Linked DNA regions of Homo sapiens: region 2 is linked to region 1. The links come from fine-mapping of genetic effects on gene expression. Tissue or cell type: prefrontal cortex. Region 1 holds a variant in brackets; the other region holds the start of a gene. All regions are shown on one strand. Distances are from middle to middle.

Region 1 (2,765 bases):
CTAGACTATTAAGATGCCTGAATTGACAGGCTAAAGAACTGGGCTGGAAACTTATGAACGATAGAGCTGGAAATTCTGAAGTCTTTCAGAACTGCAGAGAAAGAAACCAATTAGGCTCTTAATTAAAAGCTTGAGATGGTCATTTTCAAGAAGATGACTGAAACAGATGTATACTGGGACTTATACAATCTATAGTCCAGCTCTAACCTATATCAATTCCTGACTCTGCAAAATGGTCAGCTGCTTAACTGAGTGACATAACAGAAGAAAGGGGAAACACTGTCTGGTGAAACATCACATTATTTGGAATCTCTTTATTTCTTTTATGCTTAATGTCTGACATACAATAAAATATTACTATACATGCCAAAAGACAGGAAAATTTTTATTAGTAATGAAGAAGAAAAAGATAGAAATAGTAGCAGACTAATAAATGATCCAGATATCAGAGTTACCAGTCAAAGCCTTTGTAATAACAATAATTAATATATTAAATAAATTAGAAAAAAGATAAAAAGAATAGGTGAAAGTATGGAGATTTTCTCCAGAGAATTATATTCTGTTAAATAAAAAGAAATAGATAATATACAATTGAAAAATACAATCTCCGCAATTAAGAACTCAATAGATGGATTTAACAGTAGATTAGAAACAGAAGTATACAGGACAAGTGAATTAAAATATAAGTCAATAAAAACACATAAAATTAAGATTAGGAAAAAATTAAAAGAAAAAATGAATAGAGATGTATAGGATGATCCAAAGGTCTAACATACATATAATAGGTATCACAGAAGTAAAAAGAGAAAATGGGTGGAATCACTATTTATATTTTCCAAACTGATGAAAGATAACAACTGAGAGATTCAAAAAGCTTTGAGAACCACAATTTGAAGATAAACAAAGCAAACTACACCACAGTATATCAAAGAATCTTCTGAAAACCAAATATAAAGAGAAAAGCTTACAGTTGTTGACTTAAAAAGAGAAACACTAAGACTGAAATCTAACTTCTTAACCAAAATGATGGAAACTAGAAAACAATAAAATGACATCTTAAAAATGTTAAAATAACTGCCAACCTATAATTTCACACACAATATTTTTATATCCTTCAAAAAATGAAGATAAAGATAGTTTTAGTCAAATAAAAAATAAAGAATTTGTCACTAGTAGGCCCACCTTTGTAAAATTAAATGAACTACTCTCAAGCTGAAAAATGATTCCAGACAACCTACAAAATGGGAGAAAATTTTTGCAATCTATCCATCGGACAAAAGGCTAATATCCAGAATCTACAAGGAACTTAAATAAATTTACAAGAAAAAAAA[AC/C]CATCAAAAAGTGAGTGAAGGATATGAACAGACACTTCTCAAAAGAAGACATGTATGTGGTCAACAAAAATGTGAAAAAATGCTCATCGTCACTGGTAGTTAGAAAAATGCAAATCAAAACCACAATGAGATACCATCTCACACCAGTTAGAATGGCAATCATTAAAAAGTCAGGAAACAACAGATGCTGGAGAGGATGTCAAGAAATAGTAATGCTTTTACACTGTTGGTGGGAGTTTAAATTAGTTCAACCATTGTGGAAGACAGTGTGGCTATTCCTCAAGGATCTAGAACCAGAAATACCATTTGACCCAGCAATCCCATTACTGTGTATATACCCAAAGGATTATAAATCATTCTACTATAAAGACACACACCTGTATATTTATTGCTGCACTATTCACAATAGCAAAGACTTGGAACCAACCCAAATGCCCATCAATGATAGACTGGATAAAGAAAATGTGGCACATATACACCATGGACTACTATGAAGCCATAAAAAAGGATGAGTTCATGTCCTTTGTAGGGACATGGGTGAAGCTGGCAACTATCATTCTCAGCAAACTAACACAGGAACAGAAAACCAAATATTGCATGCTCTCACTCATAAGTGCGAGTTGATCAATGAGAACACATGGACAAAGGGAGGGGAACATCACACACCGGGGCCTATTTGGGGGTGGGGTACTAGAGGAGGGATAGCATTAGGAGAAATACCTAATGTAGATGACGGGTTAATGGGTGCAGCAAACCACCATGGCATGTGTATACCTATATAAGAAACCTGCACGTTCTGCACATGTACCCCAGAAATTAAAATATAATAAAAATAAATAAATAAAAAGAAAAAGAAAAAAAAGAAAAATGATTCCAGATGCAACATGAAAATATAGGAGAAAATTTCAAACTTCAGGAGAGTAATTATGTGGATAAATACAAATGACTAGTGGCTGTATGTATGAAACAAGAATTGTAATGTCATATATATTTGCGTATAGTATATATTATATATGAAAAAACCAGAATTACAGTGGAAACATATTATTATATTGCTGCAGGTAATGTAGTACTTAGAGAGAAACTGCAGCACTACAATTCTGATTTGGCATGTTTCTATTTTATTTTAGTTCAAAATGTTTTCTAATTTCTAGCTTAATGCTGTTGTGGTCAGAGAATATGCTGCATATATTAGACAAGAAGAAAGACTGAAAATCAATTATTTAAACTTACAACTCAAGAAGCTACATAGTAAAAAGCACATCAAAACTAAAGAAAACCTAAGAAAATAAATAAAAAAACAGAAATAAACAATGAAAAGGAGAAAAATTAACAACATTGAGGCTTGAGACTTAAAGTTGATAAAGTTTTAATAGGATTGATCAAGAAAAAATAAAGAATCCATAAGTTTTCAGAATTGAAAGTACACAGAT
Region 2 (2,614 bases), 580 kb after region 1:
TTTTATGCCCAATGCCCACAATGGCTTAGAGCATAATAGGGTTTCTTAGGCATTTAATAAATGTTAATTGAATAAATTTGGTTAAAGAGATTATTGTATAAGAAATATGCAGGGGAGTTGAAACATACGACCTCCAAAGTCCTTTCCAACTTAGACTTTCATTGAAGGATATCAGTCCCTTCCATGTTTTTGAATATCACATCTATGTATGACTATGTATACATATGTATATGTATACATGTATGGCTATGTATGACTCCCAGAGCCATAATTTCAAAGCTCTCAATCTGAGCTTTCGACTAAAATATCCATCTGCCTGTTACATAGCTTCACTTATTATCTAAGTTGGCATCTCAAATTCAATACGTCCAAAATTAACTTACTTTCCCACACAACTTGTTCCACCTTAGCAGTTTTTTGTATTTGCTAATGACACCATTGTCCTTTCAGGGACTGCTGTTAAAAACATCCTACATGGCCACTCTCTTCTAAAATAAATCACTGCGTAGACCTCTGCATTCCTCTTTCCTAAAATTCTTTTTGTCGTTCCATAGGCTTACAGTCTCCATCAAACTGCTTGTGACTCTAATTAGCACTTACTTCATTCTGACTTGCATGCTATATTTCCATCTCTGTTCCACATTTCAAGATTTCTGTAGATAGACAGCAGGTGCTCAACAACTCCTTGTAGAATGGCTGCATGAAGGTTGGGATGTTAGGTTTAAATTGCCTTTGCGGCACGGATCTTGTTTTACACTTTTTTGTCCCCCACCCCCCGCCATAAAAAGAGCAGAGAAAACAGGGAACACATATATTAAAAACTGAACACTGCATCTATTATTCTAACTCGGAGCTGTTGCAACAACTGGCGGCAGTTTTAACAAAACAAGCCACGCTCTGCCATTAAAAAAAAAAAAAAAGTCCCTTAGACTCAGCTCCCAGCTAAAACAACCCAGGATCCAGGTTTCCCACCCCCTTCCAGTGGTCTGATGTGCGTCGGAGGAGCGAGGAGAAAGGAGCAAGGAGCAAGCTGGGCCTGAGGAGCAGGGAGCGCGGGATGGGGGACGTCCCGGAAGTCACTGACGAGCTGGCTGCCGCCTCTGCGGGATCAGTTTGGGCTGAGGGCCCAACAATAACAGGCGCCCGGGCCGGGCGGGGGCCGCGGGGATCCGAAGCTGGAGGGCGGGACCTGGATTGGAGGAGGCGGGTGGGACGCCTCCAAAGGCCGAAGGGGATTGGAAGAGGGAGGTAAGGGGCGGTGGAGCTCGAGGAATGGGCCGGAGAACTAGCGGGTCGAGCGAGGAGCGAGCATGCTGATTGGGTTTCGCGGAAGGAGACGGACCAGAGCTGGCCGAGGATTGGCCGCGGTGCCTAGGGGGCGTGGCCGGCGCGCGCGAGAGGGAGCGCGAGGGAGCTGGCTGCGGGCCTGCCTGCCAGCTAGCCGGAGCCGCGGGTGAGCGCGGCGAGCGGCGACCCTGGTGAGGAGCGCGGCGCGGGAGGCACGTTCCTTAGCTCCGCCGCGGCCGTCCTCCGCGGCTCGAGGACTCCGCTTCCTTCCCTCCCCTCCCCTGCGCTCCGGCCTGGGGTCTCGGCGCGGGGAGCGGAGGGAAGGGACGAAGGAGGAGTAGGTGAAAGCGGGGTGAGGGGCGGAAGGGTCCCGGCGCGGGGTGAGGCGAGGGCTGCCTCTTGTTCTCCCGCCGCTGCCGCCGTCTCCTGGTCGGGTGCCGCGGCCAGAGGCGCGCGGGGCTGCCGAGGCACCCGCACTATGCAGGCAGACTGCCGGCCGCCGCGATGGCGAGCCGGGCGGTGGTGAGAGCCAGGCGCTGCCCGCAGTGTCCCCAAGTCCGGGCCGCGGCCGCCGCCCCCGCCTGGGCCGCGCTCCCCCTCTCCCGCTCCCTCCCTCCCTGCTCCAACTCCTCCTCCTTCTCCATGCCTCTGTTCCTCCTGCTCTTACTTGTCCTGCTCCTGCTGCTCGAGGACGCTGGAGCCCAGCAAGGTGAGTGGTCCCAGGGGAGTGAGCGGCGGGGGAACCTCCGTCGGGGCTGCGGGTCTCTTGGCCCCTGAACAAATCTGCAGACGCTGCAGGGAGGCGCGGTGCGCTTTCGTGCGTGGCCGGACCTGGCTGGGTACTCACGGGGTTGAGTTGCAAAGGCAAGGTCTTGCCCGTCTGTCCCCCAAGTTGGCGCGGCTTTACTTTTTGGCAAGGCCATTTATTTTTCTGAAAGGGGGACGTGAGACCCTGCTATGAAAGCCTCGTTGATATTAGGTCCTTCTGGGGAAAATTTTGGGGAGGAAAAAGAACCTTTGGAGGTAATGACCCCTAAAGTTAAGCTGCACGGATGGATGGACACTGTAGGAAGGCAGGTTAATTAAATAGCATCTTAAGCCTATTAAAGGTAAGTGGTGGTAATTATGATCCTTTGTGAAAGAGCCCGGGTTCTGAAGCGAATGGAATAGTTTCTGCTTATCTCTGAGTCTTGGATTCAGAACATGTTCTTTACAATCCATCATTGAGGCTGGTGGTCTAGACTGCCTTGGTCAAACACTGGGTCTGACCCAACGCTATGCTAATTTGCCCAAGTGAAGCTCTCCACATTAAAAAGGTAAGCCTTTC

What was found. PIP is the estimated chance that this variant, and not a neighbour inherited with it, causes the effect.
Region 2: it holds the start of DCBLD2, and the variant in region 1 is fine-mapped to the expression of DCBLD2 in prefrontal cortex (CommonMind, PIP 0.95).

Annotation. Positions count from the first base shown.
Region 1 is chr3:99,475,860-99,478,624 of GRCh38, reverse strand. The region is part of intron 1 of LOC105374007 (a long non-coding RNA gene); the gene reads left to right. Among named protein-coding and RNA genes, the nearest start is that of COL8A1, 160 kb to the left of the region's middle. The variant AC/C (reference allele first, on the strand shown) is at 1,332.
Region 2 is chr3:98,900,504-98,903,117 of GRCh38, reverse strand. It overlaps DCBLD2 (discoidin, CUB and LCCL domain containing 2), which reads left to right and starts at 1,423. Exons shown (of 16, transcript NM_080927.4): 1 at 1,423-1,996. The coding sequence starts at 1,792. It overlaps LOC105374002 (a long non-coding RNA gene), which reads right to left and starts at 1,104. Exons shown (of 2, transcript NR_189121.1): 1 at 601-1,104. RefSeq lists silencers at 1,105-1,154, 1,295-1,984 and enhancers at 1,092-1,807, 1,808-2,524.